7 linked regions of the Homo sapiens genome follow. The protein of the gene in region 1 interacts with the protein of each later gene in a biochemical or structural test. Each region holds a gene or a part of one and is shown in the gene's direction. Other genes may lie near its edges.

Region 1 (3,500 bases):
TTATTGTTCTATTATTATTTTGCGGTTTTTCATTTTTTGTTTTCGTAGAGACCTAGGTCTCACCGTGTTGCCCAGGCTAGTCTCAAACTCCTGAGCTTAAGTGATCCTCCTCCCTCGACCTCCCAAAGTGCCAGGATTAAAGGCATGAGCCACCATGCCTAGCCTATTGTTAGTCTGTTTCTTATTCTGATATGAAGTCCGGTGCGGAGGTTCTGAAGGAATGCTGACTGCTCTTAAAATTGCAAAGCATCTTGCTGGAAATGGACTTTTTTATTGATTAGAAAACATTCGGTTTTAACTCTTTATAAACATCAGAATAAACTTCATGATTAAACACTTTATAAATACTTCTCTTTGGGGCTAAAGAGGAAACACCAACCAGCAGCCTAAGTGACAGCATAAAATTGCAAGATTTTTCATAAAGTATTTTACTGTCCTTCCAGCATAGGGAGGGAGTGATAACTCAAGAGTTTGCCCAAGAGCAGGAGTGCTTGGTGGTGGTCTGAGGGGAGGAGCTACAGACTTGTCAGGGCTACTTTGAGCCCTTAACTGGCATCCAGTACTCCCCAAATCCAGTGCTGTTCAGGGTGGCCTCAGAATGAAACGGGAGCTTAAGTTGGTTTTGAGGAGCAGTACCTGTTGCTGACAGACAGGGTTGGCTCCCTGACAAACATTACTGAAAACACGGGTTATTCCCCTCCTCCTCAGTACCCACTCTCTGCCTTCCTTCTCTTGTTTAGGCTAATCTTTTAAAGTGATGTAACTTAAAACAGTCCAGTGTGAGTTAATCTCTGGGGCCAGCTAGTATCCCGGGAGTAGAGGTGCTAAGATCTTTTGCCTACAGATCAGGGTAATGACAAGATCAAACACTGGGGTTTCCTGCAGGCAGCTATAGAGGAGTCGTATTAAAGTCAGGCTAATAGAATGGCTTTTTTTTTTTCCTTTCCTTTTCAGGTGTTGGAGAGCACAATGGCTGAACAAGTCCTTCCTCAGGCTTTGTATTTGAGCAATATGCGGAAAGCTGTGAAGATACGGGAGAGAACTCCAGAAGACATTTTTAAACCTACTAATGGGATCATTCATCATTTTAAAACCATGCACCGATACACACTGGAAATGTTCAGAACTTGCCAGTTTTGTCCTCAGTTTCGGGAGATCATCCACAAAGCCCTCATCGACAGAAACATCCAGGCCACCCTGGAAAGCCAGAAGAAACTCAACTGGTGTCGAGAAGTCCGGAAGCTTGTGGCGCTGAAAACGAACGGTAAGACTTGTTCTGTTGTGTTTCTTTTGCCTGGGTGATAGCTCCCGCCTGCTGGATCCCCATTCATGAAGCTTTAATAGGACAAGCCCAAACTCAAATCAATCTTGAGATTTAGTATTGAGACCTTTATATAGAATCTCTATTCGGGGTATGTGATAATAGCAGACTTGTTTTGTGAATCTATTTATTAAGGATATTTTCTGATTGTGTATATTGCAGAGCACATTGAGGCTTGGAGAATGCATTTGTAAACACCATACCTCCATTAGGTGATTTCTTTCTAATTCTTGCAAATGTCTAATCATCTGTAAAATACCCTTCTCTGGCCCGTAATGGAAATGTTAAAAGCCTTTAAGTTCAAAAGGAAAGAATGGTGTGAAAACTGGTAGTACATTTGTTTCCCACTGTCATTAGAAAATGCTTGTGATGTTCTTACACTTCTTGAATTGGTAGCATTTTATGGGTTAACCAGTGAATGGCTGTTGAAGACATGAAGAACTTCTTTTGTCTCCTCCTCCTCTCTGACCTAGGTTCTATTGCCTATGCCCTGCAAGGTGAAATAGACAGATAGCTGAGATTTTTAGCATGAATTTTAGACTTCACCTTCATTATTTTTAGGGGTTCTTAGTCACTGAATTCCTTCCTGTCTGTGCTGTTCTGCCAATGGCCTTTACCACTAGTAGCTATTTCCTATTCCAAGCTTTACTGTTTTGTTTTTTAATCATTTCCCTTGGGTAAGAATATGTGCATCAACAGGAATGTCAGAGCATACTGTTTCATGCAGGCACAAAATTCTGCTCTATGGATGTGCATAATTATGACAATAAGGAAGTTGACTGTACAAGCTCAATTAAATGCTCATAGTCTACATAAGAGCAGGAATCTCAGGTCCTTATATCTGTGACAGTCCCAAACCATCCTAATAGAAATAATATGTCCAAGGGCAGAAAATCCTTGTTGACAAGGATTACGATAAGAACACTAACTTAATTAACTTCATTCAAAAGCCAAGTACATTAACTTTGGCTTTTTTTGACTTGGGTAACTTAGAGTGATTGGTGGACATGGGTTTTTAAATTTTGATTCTGGGGGCTCTTGTACATTACCCCAACGTCTTGCCTAGATTTATGAAACACTGATTCTTAGAAACATAGATAGAAAGAAAACTGGGGATAGCTACTATCTGCATTGTTCTTGGCATTAAATTAAGTGATACTTAGAGGTAGGTAATTATGTGAAGTCATCATCACGGGGTTTATGTGCCTGACAATTTGTGGTTTTAATCATCTCCCATTTGTTACCAAAAAGAGATGGAGTCAACTTTGGGGGAGTTGGAAACAAAGATTCTGCTGAATTAAAAATGTGGTAGAAAGAGGAACACCTTATTAAGAGAATTAACTGACTTTTAGCTTTATTTCCTTAAGAAAGGAAATGCTCTATTTCCACTAGAAAAAAAAAAGGAATATAAATAGGAAACACTTATTTTGTAAACATGTCATTTAAATCAACAAGGAGCCACACTACAAATAAAACTACAAAAGCAGGTGCATTTTGGTAACATTTTCTGGGAAATCATTTTTAGACTCAGAGTCCTTTTGTTTCTTCACTTTCAAGAAAACTCCTTAAGATTCTAAAAAAGGAAGAAAAGATATTTAGGGAGGGAGGAAAACAAATGACTTTTTCTTTGATTTTAATTAGCACCTTTTAAAAAAAAATTAATCCTTCCCCTGATAGGAGGGTTCTTCAAAGGCAATATCTGTTTGGGGAGGGGGTGATTCACAAGTTTGCATTTGAGGATATGAGACTGCGGTGAATGAGGAAGGGAGTAGGTGGCATAAAATTGAAACTTCATGTGAAAAATTCCAGCGTCTATTGGCTGCAGCGATTTCACTTGTATAATGAGTAGCCCTATTCCAGCTCACCCTGACCACACCCACTTGGAAAGTCCAGGGTGCACTTCGCAGTTTAAATGTCTACACACCAGAACAAAAAGTACAATAGCTGTTGCTCAATTGCTAGTCAAATAACTTAGCACTGGGGAATTCCAGATGTTACTTAGGGAATTTTATACTGGTGCATCTCAATAAAGAACTGAAAGTAAGCACAAGAAGAAAAAAAGCCTTATCTTTGCTCTAGATTTTGCAAAGGGGAAATTTCAACAGAACGCAATCATTGCTACACGTCTGCCAAGACACAAGGCTTGGGCGATCTTTTTTGTTCATTTGTTTGAATACTT
Region 2 (3,500 bases), 1.3 Mb from region 1:
CCTGGGTGACAGAGCAAGACCCTATCTCAAAAACAAAAACAAAAACCTGTCTCAAGAGGAGCTGCCTGTTTATTTAATTTCCCCATCCTACAGTTCTGGAATTACCCACCAATCCACCTCATCACCCCTGCCCATCCAAGGTTAAAAATTGACCTCATGGCAGATCCTGCCATACTTTTTTGGAACAGAAAGGCAGACAGTTGCCTTGATTTCAAAATATTGCCCTGCTAAATAAACACAAAATAAAAATAAAATTGATGTACTGGATTGTTCTTAAGATAAATACTTCTAAGAGCTGGATTCGGAGCAAATGAGGTGGGCTGTCAATACTCTGCTTCCAGTGTTGAAGTTCTGGTGTTTAAGGTGTTAAAAGAAAGCTTCAGACAAATTAAATTTAATGGAGTTTAATTGAAAAAGAAAAAAATAGTTTGTGAATCAGGTGGCCTCTAGAATCACAGCAGATTCAGAGAGATTCCAGGGATGCCTCGTGGCCAGAACAAATTTATAGAAAATAAAAGTAAAGTGACGTACAGAAATCAGAAGTGTGCAGAAAGAGCTGGATTTGTTATGGGTTGGCGTTCACCTTATTTGAACACTCAGCAGTGTATGAGTGGTTGAAGTATGGCTCCTGGGATTAGCCAAGACTCAGCTATTGTTATAGACGCATACTCCTAAGTTAGGTTTTCAATCTTGTCTACCTGTTAAGTTATAGTTTGTCCACGAGGACTCAAATATGCAAGTACGGAGTCCTTCTCAGGCCATATTTCATTCACTTTAACAAAAGATAAAAAGAAATTACATAGTCTAGACAAACATAGGTTAAACTCTAGAAAACATCACTGTGTTCCTTGAGAAAACAGTAAGAAGATACCATCACTGTCTTATACGTATAAATTAGCAAGTAGGACAAAAATACATACCAGATCAAAAAACTGCCAACTTAAACATTCACACAGAGCTTCCTGCCCATTTCTTTGGATAATATTTGTTTTGAAAGAGATAAGAAGCCTCCCTCCAAGACCCTGTGCTCCCTCTTCTAGCTTTCAGTTCATGCTGCTTCATCCACCTCATTGTGCACCACACTTACCCTGCAGCTGTCTTTGTTAACTTATTTTCCTCCACCCACCTTCTCTGTCTACCTCTTATTGTGTTTTACTTTTGTCCCACCTCTGCTACCTACTCTGCTGTGATCCCTTCTCTCTGAGGATCTCATCTTTATGTCCTGTGGGAATGGGGTCGAGCCTGGGGGTCTGGGAAGGTTTCCTTCCCACTGAGTCCTGGAAAGGCTCTTTTCCAGGGACTGAGGTAGCAAGGAACAGAACATCCCTTATTAAAGACCAGACACTGACTTGGCACTGTACCTATGCTGTCTCATTTAATGCTCACAATAATCTTTTCTGGAAGCTTTAGTTTTCTTTTTTACAAATGATTTGAAAACTGAAGCCTGGAGGCATTAGGTAATTTATCTAAGGTTAACACAGGAAGTGCAGGGTTGAACCAGGACACAAGCCCAGATCTGTCAGTTGCACGATGCTGCCTTCAGATTATGTCAAGTGAAGCAGAAACAAACTCTTGAGTTAAATCTATCAATACTCAGAAAATGAAACAAATAGAGTTTGTTAAGAGCTGTAGTTTATGCAACGATTTATCCTGATAATCTTAATAACGATATATTTTAAATTATTATTTCTGAATCCAACTTACATTAAGATACTTTTCTAAAAAATTAGAGCACCTCTTTTCATAACTTGGAATGTTTTCTTTGAGAAATTCTATTGGAAATGGTGAGTAGGTTACCAGTTGGCTCTCAGTTGCATAGTGAACCTTCTATGGGTAAGAACTTTGGTATGAATATCACAGTTTCTCCTTGTTTCTTTGGAGACTGCATCAGATGCCAACTAGGAACTGAATGTACCAGGAACACAGCTATCCTTTTACCCACTTCACCCCCGCCCCCTTAGAAGGAAGAGGAATAATAGTAACAATCACAATTGTAGCAACAACCGTGAACATTTACTGAGAATTTGTTATATGCCAGATATTCTAGGCGACCTCACCTATGACTGTTTCTCAAATTTTCATAGTTTACAAAAAGTGATTACTTTTCTGATTTGCATTGATTATGAAATTATGCACATTTGCCAACTTTTTTTAATGGGGGTCCATACATGTAAAATATAGGCCTGTTAATATCTGTATCCCATATTTATATCTTTGACATTTATGGTCATAACAAGAAATATCAGGACACATCTCTGAAGATTTTGGCAGACAATCTGTGGTGGAGGTTTTGAATTCTTGTCGGCAAGCACAGTCTTCCAAAGCTTAGCTTCTGGACCTGAGGGTCTGTGAACCTGCAACATCAGTGTCATCTGGGAGCTCATTATAAATACAGTCTCAGAACTCACCCCCGGGGCACTGGACCAGTATCTGTATTTCAATAAAATTAGGGGTGTATGTGCTTATTATAGCTCATGTCTAGAAGGTCATCCTAGGCCTGGCACAGTGGCACATGCACACACCTATAATCCCAGAGCTTTGAGAGGCTGAGGTGGAAAGACCACTGGAGGCCAGGAGTTCAGAGACCAGCTTGGACAACATAGCAAGACTCTGTCTCTACAAAAAAAAAAAAAAAAAAAATTAGCCAGGCATGGTGGTGCATGTCTGTATTCCCAGCTGCTTGGAAAACTGAGATGGGAGGATCGCTTGAGTCCAAGAGTTTAAGGATGCAGTGAGCTATAATTGGGCCACTACACTCAGCCTAGGCAACAGAGAGAGACCTTGTATCTAAAAAAATAAAAATAAAAAAAAGAAGGTCACCCTGTGTCACCTCCTGTCAAACAATATATTTTTCTTCTGCAGATTACTGGAAGAATTGGTTCGGAAAGAGAAAGAATTACAAGCACTCCTTCATCGAGCTATTGAAGAAAAAGACCAAGAAATTAAACACCTGAAGCTTAAGTCCCAACCCATAGGTGAATAGCAGAAAGTTTTATAGTAATACTGTTCAGCCAGGCTGCCACAAAAAGCCAAGAAAGCCAACAGGAAGTTTTATTTGTGGCTAAGTCAGCATTTCTCACTTCTACCATGACTGCAAGCAGGAATTCCTTTAAAAAAAAAAAATCCAGTTTTTAACTGTAGCAAACTCATTTCTTATAAGTGCAGTAAAAATAGATTATTCATAATCATCTTTTCCTGAGATTATGTATTACTGAGGTAAACAGGGCTCTCTGTTTTTAGTCTTTATTTTTAAAGATTTCACAATGAGCTTACTAGAATAAATAATACTATTTTTTGTCATTTTGCATTTATATTCTGTGTATTCTAGCCTTTTTCCTTATAATTTGAAGAGGCTTAAATAGAATAAAGATGTAGTAGTAAAAAGGCATAGCTGGGGAGAATGTTATTTAGCCCATTTAGAGGAAAACAGAATTCATAGTTATTTGTTTAGATATGTGGCTCTTTCATAGTGGAAAAAGAGATTATGATAATTATATAGT
Region 3 (3,500 bases), on another chromosome or scaffold:
CCTCCCAAAGTGTTGGGATTACAGGCGTGAGCCACCACGCCCGGCCCAGAGTGACATTTAAGAAGATGATCTGGGCTGGGCGCAGTGGCTCACACCTGTAATCCCAGCACTTTGGGAGGCCGAGGTGGGCGGATCCTGAGGTCGGGGGTTCGAGACCAGCCTAGCCAACATAGTGAAATCCCGTCTTTACTAAAAATACAAAAAAATTAGCCAGGTGTGGTGGTGGGCACCTGTAATCCTAGCTACTTGGGAGGCTGAGGCAGGAGAATCGCTTGAACCTGGGAGGCAAGGTTGCAGTGAGCCAATATCGTGCCACTGCACTCCAGCCTGGGCAACAGAGCAAGACTGTCTCAAAACAAACAAGAAGATGATCTGGTCAGTCTTTGAGACAGAGACAGTGATACTTGCTCTTTCCATCTCCTAGCCCTGCCACCAAATTTTTGTCTACTTTTCTTGTGGTTTATATAATTTCTGCCTGTTATAGAACTTGGTTTGGGGACAGGTGCGGTGCAGTGGTTCATACCTACAATCCTAGCATTTTTGGGAGGCTGAGGCAGGTGGATCGCTTGAGCTCAGGAGTTCGAGACCAGCCTGGGCAACATGGGAAAACCTTGTCTCTGCAAAAAATACAAAAAGTAACCAGGTGTGGTGGCTCCTACCTGTAGTCCTAGCTACTTTGAGGGAGCTGGGACAGGAGGATCTCTTGAGCCCAAGAGACGGAGGTTGCAGCAAGCTGAGATCATGCCACTGCACTCCAGCCTGGGCAACAGAATGAGACCCTGTCTCAAAAAAAAAAAAAAAAAACAAAACACACACACACAACAACAATTTGGACTTGGGAGGCTCAATCTCGCATGTCCATGGGGACCATAATTGAAATGATCCTCCTGAGGATTTCCAAGCCAGGTGGTGCCTGACTCGTTATGCTGCCATCACCTTGTTTTCCTATGGAAATGCAGGCGCAGCATTGCCTAGCTTCTCCACCCCCCATGCCCAAGCAGGACAGGAAAATTTCACAGGAGGTTTCACAGGTTTTAATTATCTTCAAAAATACTTCAGGTCAAATAGCATATATCCACTAGCCAAATACGGCTGTCAGGTTTATATTCTTTCCCTAGAGCTGGATGGTTTCAAAGGGGCACACTGTTGTCTTGCCATTATAGTAGTAGGTAACTTTGGCCAACTATATCAAGTAAACCTCTTACTTACATATATAGATGTCAAGTTAGGATTTTAGAGTGGTATTCGGTCTTGATGGCTGAATTTCAGTATCTAAGAAAGAAAGCTCTCTGCTAAATTGTCATAAAGAATATTTTTTCTCAGTCTGACAGTGTCTGAAACTCAGACTTCAGAATAACTGCCCTTTTTGTTAATGTGACACAGATGAATTACATTCATCTGTGTCACATTAACAAAAATGACTCATTAAAAATGAGTCCTAAAAATGACTCATTAAAGAGGGCTAGTTGCGCTATAGTTTCTGCTGTATTGTATGGCTCTAAAAATCTGATTCTGTACTGTGCACTGATTCCACCTCTCAGAAACAACTCTTCAGCTCAGTGCATCTGCGTGCTCTGTTCCGACAGACTTACAAATGTTCTGAGCACTTGGTCTGTGCCAGCCTCCATTCGTGTGCTGTCTGGGTTTCTCAATCTCCATTTAAGGGAGGCATCCTTAACTTCATTTAAGAATCAGGCAGCAGACTGGGTGCAGTGGCTCATGCCTGTAATCTCAGCACTTTGGGAGGCCAAGGCGGGTGGATCACGAGGTCAAGAGATTGAGACCATCCTGGCCAACATGGTGAAACCCTGTCTCTACTAAAAACATAAAAATTAGCTGGGCATGGTGGCGCACGCCTGTTAGTCCCAGCTACTCGGGAGGCTGAGGCAGGAGAATCACTTGAACCTGGGAGGCAGAGGTTGCAGTGAGCCAAGACTGTGCCACTGCACTCCAGCCTGGCAACAGAGCGAGACTCCATCAAATAAAAAAAAAGAGAAGGCAGCAGAGACAGATTAATTTTCCCAAAGTTACATACCTAGCATCACAAACAGTTGCACTGGGGATCCGGTCCCTGGCAACCTGCTCCGGATCCAGTTGCTAGGCTGTCCTGCTTCTACTGAAAGCCAGTCTTTGCATCTAGAAACAGTTGCTGAGGCTGCATGTCTCTTTTTGCCCTTAGGATTATGATGTTGATGAAGAGGACATGATGAATCAGGTGTTGCAGCGCTCCATCATCGACCAGTGAGCAGAGTCCGTGCTTGCTATCTGTCTCATGTTACAGAGCTTCCATTACATATTAAACGTGAAATCTATGACTCCTGTACCTTACCTGTTCAACAGACCTGAAAATGAGCCATGGCATTGGGACAGGGTCACTTCTGACAGGGGAAGTGGGTCCCCAGGTCAGCCCTTCTCTTCCCTTTGGGCTCTTGCCAAAGCTGTCTTCCCCTACTGTTAACCTTGTTTGTCACACGGTCGAGTTCGTATTGGTTCTCGGCTACTTCCTGGAGCTTCTGCCGCCTCCTGTGGAAGATAATCTAGCTTCTCCACCTCTTGTTTCACACTCATTCCTCCCATCCAGTGTTTGTCTCTCGGGTCCTTCAAGCCAGCCAGGACCTTTTCTGGGTCATGAATAGCACAATGAAGCAAGTGTCTCCTTTCCTTGTCCCCAAGGTGTGCAGACTTTGGCAGCCGTGCACCTGACCAGAGCTGAAGCTCCCGCTGGGCTGTGGGGTTGCCAGAAGCTGGGGTTGCCATCCCGGGGTACATGTCACCAGTCCTCTTGGGGTTTTGTACCATCTGATGCTGGAAGTTTTGATTAGTGATATTTTCTACTACTACATATTTAGAGTTCACTGGTTCAGTCTTAAATGCCTGCATGGTGCCTTTTTAGGATAAGGTATAACCATACATTTTTGGTGGAAGTGTTTCTGGGTTAGGGAAGTTAAAGTCTGTTTATCCGTAAGTGGGGAGGAGGGTCAGCTAAGAGAAGTGGGAGGGCCAGAGCTTTTTGGTTCTGATTTACAAATTAATGAAGTAGTTTCAAACAACGCGGTCATGTTTACCTCTCCATTTGGGAGCCTGCCTACATTCTTGTTCTAGAAGCACAAAAAATCCTCAGATGAATTAGAAGAAAGAGGTTTGGGGACTCAGCGGATACTAGTTCTTTTACCTTCTGCTTGGTAACTTAGATTAAACTGAGCATTGTTTTTCTGTCACAAATGTTTTCCTTATGACACTGGTTTCGACATGTAAAATGTGTTTGAAAACCTGCTTTGTAGATGCAGAGAGAAGCTATAGGAAACCCAGTACCACCCCTGGTCTGTTCTGACGAGACATCGTTCATAAGGCACAGCACATCGCAAGATGAACAGTTGTTAATAAAAGCTGTTGCTGGAAACTTGCTTTAGGAACAGCTCAAGAACCTTGGAGTTCATATTTCACAAATATTAATAAATATAAGTCCAAGAGCTGTCAGCCTAATCTGTAGGAGCAGAACC
Region 4 (3,500 bases), on another chromosome or scaffold:
TTTGTTGAGGATACATACCCACATTTAGGTTATTTTCTGACCCAGAATTATCTTTCAACTCCAGGGTGATGATTTTTTCTCTTTGTATAGCTTACTGTTTCCCTAGTCCTGCAGATGTATTTCAAATGTCTGACGATCCTTGGATTAGCTTTTAGGTTTGAGAATGAGGCCCAGGAGAAAAGCTCTGTGTATGTGGAAGGGTATTGGTGATGGGCAGACGTTGAGTTCAAGCCGATGGAAACCTGGCCTTTGTGCTTTGCCATCCCTAACTGCCCGATCGCAGAGGACTTTGCTCTGGGTCACCACCTATTACATTAGCTGCTCTGGCTCTCTCTAGATCTGTTTCTTTAAAGAAATATGCGTGTGTGCACCTGCACCCATATCCAGGGAGAAATGCCGGTAAGTCGAGGATTCTGATTTAACAGCTTATAAATCTCGAGTTCTGTTTTCAGTCCCACGGTTACTCACTCTGGACTCTATGAGCCTCTCTCTAGGCAAATAGGAGGCAGATTCCCTTCTAATTCTACCTCAGCTGTAGTCTTCCCTTTCAAGGATTTCTTTTCCTTCATTTCTGCTGTATCAATTATCTCTATTTCATTGCCTTCCCATTTTCTAGAAATTTGTTAAAAATTTTTTAACTGGAGCCGGGCACGGTGGCTCACGCCTGTAGTCCCAGCACTTTGGGAGGCTGAGGTGAGCAGATTGCCCGACATTAGGAGTTCGAAACCAGCCTGGCCAACATGGCAAAAACCGGTCTGTATTAAAAATACAAAAATTAGCTGGGCATGGTTGGGCATGCCTGTGATCCCAGCTACTCAGGACACTGAGGCACAATAATTGTTTGAACCCGGGAGGCGGAGGTTGCAGTGAGCTGAGATTGCACCACTGCACTCCAGCCTGGGTGACAGAGCAAGACTCTGTCTCAAAAAAAAAAAACATTTTTTTTTAATCAGTTAACCTCCTCTGCTAATTTCTGCTGTTGTAGGATTACAGTTTTTAAAAATTCCTTTACTGTTATTTTAATGGAGTTTAGAGGAAGGGTTAAGTATATGCATTCATATGCCATTTCAAACCCAAAACCCTAAACCTCTGGCCTCACAAAATGGAATTCCAGGCCGGGCGTGGTGGCTCACACCTGTAATCGCAGCACTTTGGGAGGCCAAGGCGGGTGGATCACTTGAGGTCAGGAGCTCGAGACCAGCCTGGCCAATGTGGTGAAACCCTGACTCTACCAAAAATATAAAAAATTAGCTGGGTGTGGTGGCGCATGCCTGTAATCCCAGCTGCTCAGGAGAAGGCTGAGGCAGGAGAATCGCTTGAACCTGGGAGGTGGAGGTTGCAGTGAGCCGAGACTGTGCCACTGCACTCCAGCCTGGGCAGCAGAGCAAGGCTCTGTCTCAAAAAAAATAAATAAAATAAATCTAAAATAAATAAATAAAATAAATGTTAAAAATGGAATTCCAAAAGGAGATATTGCTGCAGTTATTAATAGTTGTATATTTTAATTTTTCGTTTTAATGGAAGACCAAAGTTACCATAAAATTGTGTTGCCTATAATGTTATTTTCTTTTTTGATATGAAATAGCTGATGACTATCAGCCAGTTCGTCTGCTCAGTAAACCTGGGGAACTGAGAAGAGAATATGAAGAGGAAATAAGCAAGGTAGGTGCTAAATAGTTTTTTTTTTTGGAATATTTCTCTGCTGTGTTTTTAGTTTCAGATTTTAATTTAGTTTTTTGTGCTTATATAACTAGTATATCTTGAAATATGGATAATTTTTTTTTTTTGAGATGGAGTCTCACTCTGTCACCCAGGCTGGAGTGCAGTGGCGCAATCTCGGCTCACTGCAACCTCCACCTCCCGGGTTCATGCCATTCTCCTGCCTCAGCCTCCCGAGTAGCTGGGACTACAGGCGCCCGCCACTACGCCTGGCTAATTTTTTTGTATTTTTAGTAGAGATGGGGTTTCACAGTGTTCACCAGGATGGTCTCGATCTCCTGACCTTGTGATCCGCCCGCCTCGGCCTCCCAAAGTGCTGGGATTATAGGTGTGAGCCACTGTGCCTGGCCAAAATATGGATAATTTTAATGTACTTTATAAGGGCTTTGTTTTTTGCTGTAATTTACTTCTACATAATTAATGCTCTTATGTGATAGTGTTCCCTAAGCATTTACATATGAAGAAAATTTTTTAATTCTTCTTTTTCCTAATTTAATCCATACCAGGATATATTTTTATTTCCCCAAAGTTTTGAGCTTAAAGTAAAAGGGTGGTAGAGTGTGAGTTTAGATGAGGAAAGGTTAAAGGGCTAGCTGTGAAGTTCCTAAATAGGAAAAGTACCTAAAAAGCAGTGTTTATAGTGAAGCATTATGTTTTAATTACATATGAAGTTATACATAAATAGAGATTTTTCTCTTTTTTTGTTAGTCTTCAAAATTTTGTGTATAATTTTCACTTGTAATACATCTCAGGCTAGGTGTGGAGGCTCACACCTATAATTTCAGTGCTTTGGGAGGCTGAGATGGGACAGCTATCTTGCAGGAATCTACTTCTCCAGATTTGTACTTCATTTGAGATCATTTAAATTTCTGCCAATTTGTTCTTTTTCTACTTTTCTATTCTTGTTATGAAATATTGCAAGTATACCAAAACGTTCAGAGAAGGATTGCTCTTTATTAATCACTTTTAAGGTGGCGGCAGAGCGACGGGCCAGCGAGGAAGAAGAAAACAAAGCCAGTGAAGAATACATACAGAGGTTGTTGGCAGAGGAGGAAGAAGAGGAAAAAAGACAGGCAGAAAAAAGGCGAAGAGCGATGGAAGAACAACTGAAAAGTGATGAGGAACTGGCAAGAAAGCTAAGCATTGATATTGTAAGTTTTAGGAGGGAACGCTAAGGTATGGTCATCCCTTGGTATGCGCTGCTGCAGAACCCGCTCATGGGAAGAGTCAGCTCCTTGTATTTCCAGGTTCTGCATCCCACAAATATTGTCTTTTCCACCCCAGGCTGGTTGGATTTGAGTGTTTGGAACCTGCTGATACGGAAAGCTAACTATTAACATTCCGATTGCTTTGACTGTGGTTTTCAAAGAACAGAAGAGATGGCGTTGCCATAATTAGAAGCTATTGATAACATTTTTGCTTTACTTAAAGTAAAATTGTTTTGCATATTGTTACATATTTGCTCTAATCCAGGTTTTTGGGGTTTTTTGTTTTTTGAGACAGGTCTTACTCTGTCATGCAGGTTGGAGTGCAGTGGCACAATCACGACTCACTGCAGCCTCGACGGCCGGGCTCCGGTGATCCTTCCAACCTCCCGAGTAGCTGGGACTACAGGCTGGCACTACCATGCCTGGCTACTTTTTTGTGGAGACAGGGCTTTGCCATGTTTCCTGAACTGGTGTCGAGCTCCTGGGCTCAAGCCGTCCATCTGCCTCGGCGTCTCAAAGTGCTGGGTTTGTGGCGTGAGCCACCGCAAGTTGTTTAACAACTTTTTTATATGT
Region 5 (3,500 bases), on another chromosome or scaffold:
CCTGGCCGAGGAATGGCTGCTCCACTGCCTCACCTCACGGCCTGGAGAAGGCTGCTGATGCCATGGAGGGACCGGGGCTGCACGGAGGAGGCCGCCCTTCTCCTCTCCACACCCTTAGTGAAATGCAGTCATGAGTGTCCCTCCCCTCAAACAACAAGAAAGGGCTGGCCGTGCAGTAGGAAACGGGCACGTGGCACGGAGGCTGTGCAGGTGCCATCTGGGAAATCCCAGGTAGAACCGCATGAGAGGCAGATCCACGGTACTGGATGGAAGGCCCAGTGTGGCCGGCGTGGCGGGACGCGGAGCCTGGAGCCCCTGCCTGGGGTGTTGCCGGCCCTACGAGCGATGGCCACTCGGGTCCCCTGGACCCAGGAGCTCCCTCGGGTGGGGGCCCGCCTGTAGGGAGGTGTGTGTGTTCTCAGCTTCCCGCTCTGGCGGGCAGATGGTAGCCTGGGCTGTTCACACGGCCGCCACACAGCAAGAGCACGCGCCGCACACCCCGCCGGCCGCATGCCTGGGAGGACTCCAGTGGGGACAGAAGGAGCCACGCACAGCAGCCTCTGTGGTGTCATTTCTAGGATGTTCAGAACAGGCAGACCTAGGATGCACCCTCAGGAGCTGGATGGCGGGCTCCGCTGGGGCCTTCGGGACGCTGAACTTGCCTGTGTGGATCTGGGTGGGGTGAGGGAGCTCAGACAGGCCCCTGCACCAAAGCACTTGCCACAGGAGTCACGCCCCGGGACACACGGACTCACCAGCTGTGCAGAGGGTGTCTGGAGCCCCCTAGGGGGCACCCGGACCCTGTTACCCAGGCCCTGGGATGATGGTGGGGCCTCACAGTCAGCACCCTGGTCCTGCTTTCTGCTGGTGGGGTGAAAATCCTGCTCCCAGACCACTTGCTGCCGGCCGCCATGGGGTCCCCTATCTCATGCCTGCCCCACTCTTGATTTCAGGGCTATGAGGGCCTCGTGGAGGGAGGTGAGAACATCAAGCAGGCCAACTGGCTGAGCGTCTCCAACATCATCCAGCTGGTGAGGCCTGGGAACGCGGATGCATGTTGCACTTGGACTCGCAGACAGACACACAGAGACAGACCTGCACACACAGACACACACACAGAGACAGACACGTGCACAAACACACACATGCAGACACACAGACATGCACACAGACGCACACACACACAGATGTGCACACACACAGATGCGTGCACACACAGACCCGTGCACGGACACACAGGCGCGCACAGACACAGACACGTGCACAGACACACACAGACATGCACACATACAGACACACAGACGTGCACACAGACACACAGACGCGCACACAGACACACACAGATGCACACAGACATGGAGACAGATACACATGGATAGACACATGCAGACACATAAATACACAGATACACACGTAGACACACAGATGCGCACACAGGTACACAGATACAGAAACATACAGACATATGTACTCAGAGTCACACACACACGTGCCCCATCGCACAGGGACTCAGGTTCAGGCCGACCCTGTCATCTGCTGCCATGGAATTGTTGGGTCGCAGGGTCATGGGGTTGCCAGGGGCCAGGAGGACCTGGAGACGTGGCCGTGCTGGGTCCTGGGGGAGCCCTGGCTGAGGCTGGCTATGAGGGGCCACGTGAGCGCACCTGGAGCTGCTGAGGCTTGAGCCCTGGAGGCCCTGGCCGGTTCCCTGAGTTGGTACAGGGCCTGTGTGTGCACGTGTGCACGCACATGTGTGTGGCAACCTATGCGTGTGTGTACTGTGCTTTCCAGTCTCCAAAGCCTTCCACTCTATTACCTTGGGGCTTCCCAAGCCCAGGACCGGACGGACATCATCCTCCTCTTTGTCTCTCCAAGGAGAGAGGCCCAGGGAGGTAGGGCCACCTCAGGTTTCCAGAGACCCCGGGGCTTCTGCCTCTCACTCTGCAGGGTCTGCCAGCCCCTTGCTGCCCAGTCCTGGGGTCCCTCTGGTGATCCCCAGGGGCTGTCTGCCGCCTGCCATCTCTCCTGAAGTTTCTGGTCTCCTCTGTGCAGGGCGGCACTATCATTGGCAGCGCTCGCTGCAAGGCCTTTACCACCAGGGAGGGGCGCCGGGCAGCGGCCTACAACCTGGTCCAGCACGGCATCACCAACCTGTGCGTCATCGGCGGGGATGGCAGCCTCACAGGTGCCAACATCTTCCGCAGCGAGTGGGGCAGCCTGCTGGAGGAGCTGGTGGCGGAAGGTGGGTCTGTGCCCGGCGCACTGTAGGCCCTGGGGTTTTGTTTTGCCGCTGCTGCCAGGCGTGGGAATGGGCAGGACAGAGGGACGAGGGATCCCTGGGTGCCCCGAGGCAGAGGAGGGGCTGTCTGGCCGTTGGCCGGGGAGGAGTAGTGTCTGCCAGCACGAGCTCAGATGTCTCCCAGAGATGGAGGTCAGTGCTCAAGCCTGAGGGAGGGCACCCAGGCAGTGCATGGGGCTGGTGGAGGCCGGTGTTGCTCACCCTACGCTGCGTAGACAAGTCTTCTCTGTGATTGATCCGAGTGAGATTCTGGACATGCATGGTCACAGTCTGCAGAAATAGAGTTGAAGTTGGGGTGACATAAGACACAGAGTCCCGAGATTGCTGCTTGGAAAGTGGCCTCTCGGAGCCATGTCTGTTCCATGTCCCTCATGTGGGGGACCCTGATGTGAGGCCTTGGCCGCTCTGCAAGGCACCCCAGAGGTCCCCCGTCTGCACTTGGCCCCAGCGGATCCAGCCATGCTGCCACAGGGTTCCAGGCAGGAGGAGGCTGAGCCTGGAACTCCGGGGCCCCTGCCGGGCTGCACGCCTGGGATGCGGGGGAAGGGGTGGCAGGAGAGGGGTCTCTGGCCCTGTGGTGGGGCCAGTGGAGCCTCAGCCAGGTCCTCCTGCTGCTCCTGGCCCAGGTAAGATCTCAGAGACTACAGCCCGGACCTACTCGCACCTGAACATCGCGGGCCTAGTGGGCTCCATCGATAACGACTTCTGCGGCACCGACATGACCATCGGCACGGACTCGGCCCTCCACCGCATCATGGAGGTCATCGATGCCATCACCACCACTGCCCAGAGGTGAGTGAGGCTGGCGCCGGCGGCCAGCCCAGGGCCCCTCCTCCCCGCACGGTGGTGAGGTGGTCTCAGGGTGACGGCCATCTGCAAGGGCAGTGGACTCTGGTAGCCCCAGCATCCAGGCCAGCCGCCCTCAGCCCCCAGCTGGGGGAACGCACAGCGGGCTCCACTCCCACTCTGCCAGGCCGCGGGGGGCCTTTGTGCAGCCCCTTCTGAGGGGCAGCTGCTTGCCCTGGGGTGTGACGCCCCCAAAGGAAGTCCTGGGCTGGCCAGGCCTGGGCTTGGCAAATGACCCTCAGCCTGGGAGGAGATCAGTCGAAACCAGCCCAAAGGCTGGAAGGATCCCAAGGTATCTTTTAGCTCAGAGCCTGGGCATGAGAAGGGGCTGTCCCCTGCCTGCCTCTCCATCCAC
Region 6 (2,882 bases), on another chromosome or scaffold:
GTGGGAGGGAAGTGAAGCAGTTCTGGGCCTGTTTTTTTCATGCTTTATCATACTGGGCCTGTTGCCTTCATAGATAAGTGGTCCCCAGCACTGCAGATCCGCACAGTTCTGCTATCGATCCAGGCCTTGTTAAGTGCTCCCAATCCAGATGATCCATTAGCAAATGATGTAGCGGAGCAGTGGAAGACCAACGAAGCCCAAGCCATAGAAACAGGTATCTAATATTCATTCTCCTTCACACCACTTCCACTTTTACAAATTTGTATTACCACTTAAACTTTTCTAAAGCTCTTGGCAAGGAAAAGAAATAGAAAAAAGTATAATAAGTGAGATCCTGCTTATAGTATGTAAATACGTCTTAACAAAATGGCTTGCTATGGGACCCCCCAAATATAAAGACAACCTGTAATTGAAAGATCTTGGAGTCTCTTGTAACTACACCTGGTTTAACAAATACTGAGTGCATACCATTTATCTAGTTATATGTAAAGAATACTGGAAAACTTGAACTGTTTTTGTAACCCATTTGATTAAAGTATTCAGCTGTTTATGGCTACGGAATTTGGAGTCAAGAAGCTTCTGCTACAGATTTTAAGAAAATTAGTGGGGAGAATTGTGTATCTAGAAATGGACAACTTGATTCATCCTCTTGAATTTTCTAGAACTTCTTAATTTTATTGTAGTGTTTTGGTAATTGGACATTTACAAAATCTTTCAGCCCTGATCCAATTTATAGAAAAAGGCGTGAATTTAACAGATTACAGCATGACATTTCCATAATTAATAGTGGTTGTTTGCCATTTATAGTTTGGAAAGTAACATATTGAACTAAGTAAAATAATAATCGTATGTTTGTTTCTGTCTACAGCTAGAGCATGGACTAGGCTATATGCCATGAATAATATTTAAATTGATACGATCATCAAGTGTGCATCACTTCTCCTGTTCTGCCAAGACTTCCTCCTCTTTGTTTGCATTTAATGGACACAGTCTTAGAAACATTACAGAATAAAAAAGCCCAGACATCTTCAGTCCTTTGGTGATTAAATGCACATTAGCAAATCTATGTCTTGTCCTGATTCACTGTCATAAAGCATGAGCAGAGGCTAGAAGTATCATCTGGATTGTTGTGAAACGTTTAAAAGCAGTGGCCCCTCCCTGCTTTTATTCATTTCCCCCATCCTGGTTTAAGTATAAAGCACTGTGAATGAAGGTAGTTGTCAGGTTAGCTGCAGGGGTGTGGGTGTTTTTATTTTATTTTATTTTATTTTATTTTTGAGGGGGGAGGTAGTTTAATTTTATGGGCTCCTTTCCCCCTTTTTTGGTGATCTAATTGCATTGGTTAAAAGCAGCTAACCAGGTCTTTAGAATATGCTCTAGCCAAGTCTAACTTTATTTAGACGCTGTAGATGGACAAGCTTGATTGTTGGAACCAAAATGGGAACATTAAACAAACATCACAGCCCTCACTAATAACATTGCTGTCAAGTGTAGATTCCCCCCTTCAAAAAAAGCTTGTGACCATTTTGTATGGCTTGTCTGGAAACTTCTGTAAATCTTATGTTTTAGTAAAATATTTTTTGTTATTCTACTTTGCCTTTGTACAGTTTATTTTACTGTGTTTATTTCATTTTCCCAATTTGACAATCGTATTTTAAAATTGAAACTGATGGAACATTCTTTCTTGGTCTTCACCATCTGACAAATTGAATGGCAAGAGGTGGATTTTGCCAGTTTCTTTTCACTGATGCAGATTTGTGTTAAGATAGTACTGAATGGAGTATTTATAAACTGGCCCTGAGCATGCATAAAGCATCAGTATCTGACCTTTTTTTAACCTTCTAGGAATTTGAAATAAATGTGTTTGTGTTGTCTGATTAGATGATCATTGGTGTCTTGCCACAATGTTTAAAAATTACTGTACAGGAAAGTCACAGCAAAGATAGCAGTTGTGACTGACATGTAGGACTTTCACAGTTGTGCCACATTTTTGCCTAAAATTTGGGTTATGACATTTTTCTTGGTTCTTATCTGAAAATTTCATCTGTAACCTTTCATGTGTGTTAAGAAACACTGATCTGATCATTTGGGATTTGCTGAGGCATTTGTGAGTCTTCCTTATAAACCTGATGAGCAGATCTCAACTATCTAGCTTGTGTGTCATCAGAAAGGTTTATCCCTTTGAGAGTATCAAGTCCTCAGTTAATGATTCTTGCTTTCATCCCTCCAGTATTTGCTGTGGGAGCTCGTTTTATTCTTTAATTTGGAATTCAGTAATTTTTCTTCTTTATTGACGAATTCCTCCCCTCACAAAACTGTTCTTTCCCACCTCTCTCCATATCTAATTCCTGATTCTTGTTATTTTTAAGTCATAAATGTAGCCAGTCATAAATACATAAATGTTAACCTTCGGGTTGCAACCTTGTCTCTTGCAGTTTAAGGTAATGGATATTGTAGCCCATTTGAATTTTCTTCACTCTTATTCTCGTAATTCTGGAGTTTCTTCAGATTGTGGTGTATTTTATTGTGCTCCTATGTAAGATGAAGAATTAACTATTAAAATTACATTTTCAACATACAAAAGCTTTTGATGACTGGTAACTGGTATCCTTCCAAATAAATGCATTGCTTGGTAACAAATGTTAGCTTAATTCAGAATGAAATAGTTAACAACCCTAATATTGTAAAATTTGAAAACTGATAGCAGCTGTCATTTATAACAATTCTTGGGCTGTTTAAAGGGTACATTTGACTATAGCTAAGGAAATTGAATCTCACTTTAAAAATGAACCACACAAAACTTCAAGAAACGAAATAGAAATCAACATTTACTGCCCGTAATATTGCTCATGGTTATAGCTAGTATCACATAGTGATTTACA
Region 7 (3,500 bases), about 130 Mb from region 1:
TCTGGAATACAAAACATCCATAGCCCTCCTTTTACTCTCAAAGCAAAACACAGACACGCACATTCACATGCACACACCAGTGTGTCCGTGTCCTGTTGGTTTGCATGGAGTTTCTGTTTTGCCACGAAGCTTTTTGCCAGCCCTTTTCCCAAAGTGTTTGTACCATTTTATACTCCCACCAGTGATGTTTGAGAGGTCTGGTTGCTTCACATGTTTGCCAGTGTTTGGTGTATTAGTCTTTTTAGTTTTGGATATCCTGGTAGTTGTGTAGTGGTGTCTCCTTGTGGTTCTCCATGGGTTTTTATTCTATATTTCAGTTTGGGGAAAATGAATGAATGGAAGAAAAGAAGGGAGGAAGGATGAAGCAAATAGCTGTGCTTTGAGATCTGACACTGTATACTTCACAGCCCTGATGGACATTCTCCAAATTCTACTCCTTTTTCACATTTTCTTCTTAGAGTTTGCATTGTTCTTTTTATATTCTTCAGATTCCTTCTTTTGTTCATAATTACTTAAACCTATTCATTTTCTAATGCCTTTCAGTTGTTAATTTACTGAAGTTCTTTGGTGCTTACTAGTGCTGCTTGCTGTAGCTGCAGGGTCTGTCTCACAGTGAATTTTTTCTTTTGTGTTTTATAATTTTGGAAAGGGAGCTCATGTTAAATTTGTATTTGTAGGAATTCTGTCTGGCCTGGCTTGAGGTTGTTGTTTGCTTTAGCCTATAACCTCAGGATGGCATCAGCCTGTGACCACTTCCTGTGTAAAAGTTCATAGTTTAGGCGATCCTCTCAATTCAAAGTCTGTATCTATTTCAAGACAGGCCCAAGGTTATAAATTTGCACAAACTTTTTTTTTTTTTTTTTAATACCTTGTGCCCAGTCCAAGACAAATATGTTTGTTTGCCATGGGCTGCTTTTTTTCTAGTTCATCCTTTCATCAAAGGGTTGCACATTGAGCAGTGCCGTGTTAAGGGGGGATTCTTCATTCTACCTTCTTTTCTTGTATTCCTTGACCTCAGCTGGGCTTTAAACCTTGACTTCTGGATGGCGAGGTTGGCACTCCCCTGTGTGAGCTACTGCCTGCCTCCGGTGCTCTGTTTCTGTCCCTAGAGTTCTTTTCCTTTCCACGGAGTTTTGGTATGCATTTCAATGAATGTTTGTATTATGTTGTCCAACATACTTGTGTCCTTTATAGCTGGAGGGTTCTTAAAATTTTCTAATGCTCCATATTGCCAGAAATAAAAAGGCTGAGGGAATAAATATTATAGTCTTCTCTGATTCTTAAAAATATGAAAAATAGCTCATCAGATGACTGTAAGTCTATCCTCAGAAATCCAAGGCACACCAAGCATGTGGTGGAATGTTAACAAAAGTTTTTAAAAATGATCTTTTCTGCCAGGTACAATGGCTCACACCTGTAATCTCAGCACTTTGGGAGGCTGAGGTGGGAGGATCCCTTGATCTTAGGAGTTTGAGACCAGCCTGGGCAACATAGTGAGATCCCCCGGCCCCCCCATCTCTACAAATAATTAAAAAATCAGCTGGTCACGGTGGGGTGCACCTGTGGTCCCAGCTACTCAAGGAGGCTGAGGGAGGAGGATTGCCTGAGCCCAGGAGGTCGAGGCTCCAGTGAGCTATGATTGTGCCACTGCACTCCAGCCTGACTGACAAAGTGAGACCCTGTCTCCAAAGGAGAAAAAAAAAAACATATATATATATATATATATATATATAGTCTTGCCCTGAGGTTTTCTCTCTGTTTTCTTTACAGGGTACAGCTCTGCCGGGGGGGGAAAAAGTGGTACCATTTTGGGCGTTCTTGAGCTTCAGAATGCAACCAGACATGTCCTTGAATGTCATTAAGATGAAATCCAGTGACTTCCTGGAGAGTGCAGAACTGGACAGCGGAGGCTTTGGGAAGGTGTCTCTGTGTTTCCACAGAACCCAGGGACTCATGATCATGAAAACAGTGTACAAGGGGCCCAACTGCATTGAGTGAGTAGGGAGCAGGGGTGGGTGGGCTAAGTTCTGAGCGGGATGGGGACGTTGGCTGTTGTGGAGCCGTTGGCTGCTGCGGAGCCGTTGGTGGGTAGAGTGAGAGGGAGCCTGCCAAGATGTCAGGGTGACGATGGCTCTTCGGATTGTTATTGTCGCTGATGTGGACTCTGAGACTGGGTAGTGAAGGACTCTCACAGCTGGTAAGTAACAGAAGAGACATGAACAAGAAGGAAATAGAGAAAGACAAAGAGATAAGTGTGGTGGGGGGACAATGAAAAGGAAACAGGAGGATGGGTGAAGACAGACCTATTCACTCGCTTCACATTTTCAGTGAGGACCAGCCCTAAGTATAAAAATGAAAAGGCAGTTCATTCCTGAGAGGTTCTGAGAGCCTTCCCTTTAAAGCAACCAGTAGAGTGGTTTCACCTCTCTCCCTCCTTTGTCAGAGTGGTTTTGAGAGAGGCTGTTTTTTTTTTTTTTAATCGTTCTGTCCAGCACGGTCTTTTTTCAGGTTACCTTGCTGCTGTTCATGTACTTTTCATTCATTGATTCATTCATTCCTTCATTGATTTACATTTTTGGAGCATGCACTGCCAGTTACTGGGCAGGAGTACTGTGAGGAAGTGAGAAACCGCTCTGCCTTCTAACGCTTCTGGCCTGTGCCTGGAAGAGATCGGTACAGACCCAAGCATGACCCCAGCACGTGGGAGTGATGTGTTGGAGGTGTGCACCAGGCTCTTGAGGCGCTGGCTCTGCCAGCCTCAGCATAGCACCTTTCCTGCCCACAGGCACAACGAGGCCCTCTTGGAGGAGGCGAAGATGATGAACAGACTGAGACACAGCCGGGTGGTGAAGCTCCTGGGCGTCATCATAGAGGAAGGGAAGTACTCCCTGGTGATGGAGTACATGGAGAAGGGCAACCTGATGCACGTGCTGAAAGCCGAGGTAGAGAGGGCCCCTCCGCACGGGGATCCCCAGCGCTTGGGCCCTGGCTGTCTGTTATGGCTCCCCTTGGGGTGTTTGTTTGCAGCTCGTTAGCATCAAATTTGCAAATTGCTTGGTAGTTTGAATTTTCTTTTCCTTTTTTTATAGAGACAAGGTCTTGCTATGTTGCCCAGGCTGAACTCCAACACCTGGTCTCAAGTGATCCTCCCACCTCAGCCTCTCAAGTAGCTGGGATTACAGGCTGGATTTCCTGAAGTCAGTTTCTCCTTAAAACATCTATGCCTTGATTGGGCTCCGTGGGTCACTTCTGTAATCTCAGCACTTTTGGCAGGAGGATCACTTGAGCCTTGGTGCTCAAGACCAGCCTGGATAACACAGTGAAATCCCCTCTCTACAAAAAATAAAAGGTGCATGTGAACAGAGCAAGACCCTGTCTCTGAAAAAAAGAGAAAATCTTCCTTGCCTTTTACTGCCCTGAGAGTGGTCTCTTCATCCTCTCGATCCTGTGGACAGTCCTCCATAGTCTGTGTCTTAGGAATGTGATTGGCTGTTTACCAT

Evidence for each region.
Region 2: the proteins of TNFAIP3 (region 1) and MAP3K5 form a complex in vitro, tested with the Homo sapiens proteins (one study listed by BioGRID).
Region 3: the proteins of TNFAIP3 (region 1) and RNF114 form a complex in vitro, tested with the Homo sapiens proteins (one study listed by BioGRID).
Region 4: the proteins of TNFAIP3 (region 1) and RNF168 form a complex in vitro, tested with the Homo sapiens proteins (one study listed by BioGRID).
Region 5: the proteins of TNFAIP3 (region 1) and PFKL form a complex in vitro, tested with the Homo sapiens proteins (one study listed by BioGRID).
Region 6: the proteins of TNFAIP3 (region 1) and UBE2N form a complex in vitro, tested with the Homo sapiens proteins (one study listed by BioGRID).
Region 7: of the proteins of TNFAIP3 (region 1) and RIPK1, one has a biochemical effect on the other in vitro, tested with the Homo sapiens proteins (2 studies listed by BioGRID).

The regions. Positions count from the first base shown.
Region 1 is NC_000006.12:137,870,259-137,873,758, forward strand, and holds part of TNFAIP3 (tumor necrosis factor alpha-induced protein 3), read left to right. Parts: intron 1-574; exon of another isoform or gene 575-654; intron 655-776; exon of another isoform or gene 777-924; coding exon of another isoform or gene 925-969; coding exon 970-1,264; intron 1,265-3,500. UniProt on the Homo sapiens protein: Ubiquitin-editing enzyme that contains both ubiquitin ligase and deubiquitinase activities.
Region 2 is NC_000006.12:136,561,978-136,565,477, reverse strand, and holds part of MAP3K5 (mitogen-activated protein kinase kinase kinase 5), read left to right. Parts: intron 1-2,862; coding exon 2,863-2,975; intron 2,976-3,500. UniProt on the Homo sapiens protein: Serine/threonine kinase which acts as an essential component of the MAP kinase signal transduction pathway. Plays an important role in the cascades of cellular responses evoked by changes in the environment.
Region 3 is NC_000020.11:49,949,897-49,953,396, forward strand, and holds part of RNF114 (E3 ubiquitin-protein ligase RNF114), read left to right. Parts: intron 1-2,179; coding exon 2,180-2,245; 3' UTR 2,246-3,500. UniProt on the Homo sapiens protein: E3 ubiquitin-protein ligase that promotes the ubiquitination of various substrates. In turn, participates in the regulation of many biological processes including cell cycle, apoptosis, osteoclastogenesis as well as innate or adaptive immunity.
Region 4 is NC_000003.12:196,486,769-196,490,268, reverse strand, and holds part of RNF168 (E3 ubiquitin-protein ligase RNF168), read left to right. Parts: intron 1-1,585; coding exon 1,586-1,662; intron 1,663-2,690; coding exon 2,691-2,870; intron 2,871-3,500. UniProt on the Homo sapiens protein: E3 ubiquitin-protein ligase required for accumulation of repair proteins to sites of DNA damage. Acts with UBE2N/UBC13 to amplify the RNF8-dependent histone ubiquitination.
Region 5 is NC_000021.9:44,310,053-44,313,552, forward strand, and holds part of PFKL (ATP-dependent 6-phosphofructokinase, liver type), read left to right. Parts: intron 1-953; coding exon 954-1,031; intron 1,032-2,052; coding exon 2,053-2,242; intron 2,243-2,925; coding exon 2,926-3,091; intron 3,092-3,500. UniProt on the Homo sapiens protein: Catalyzes the phosphorylation of D-fructose 6-phosphate to fructose 1,6-bisphosphate by ATP, the first committing step of glycolysis.
Region 6 is NC_000012.12:93,408,066-93,410,947, reverse strand, and holds part of UBE2N (ubiquitin-conjugating enzyme E2 N), read left to right. Parts: intron 1-73; coding exon 74-214; intron 215-868; coding exon 869-909; 3' UTR 910-2,882. UniProt on the Homo sapiens protein: The UBE2V1-UBE2N and UBE2V2-UBE2N heterodimers catalyze the synthesis of non-canonical 'Lys-63'-linked polyubiquitin chains. This type of polyubiquitination does not lead to protein degradation by the proteasome.
Region 7 is NC_000006.12:3,074,994-3,078,493, forward strand, and holds part of RIPK1 (receptor-interacting serine/threonine-protein kinase 1), read left to right. Parts: intron 1-1,770; coding exon of another isoform or gene 1,771-1,830; coding exon 1,831-1,994; intron 1,995-2,785; coding exon 2,786-2,942; intron 2,943-3,500. UniProt on the Homo sapiens protein: Serine-threonine kinase which is a key regulator of TNF-mediated apoptosis, necroptosis and inflammatory pathways.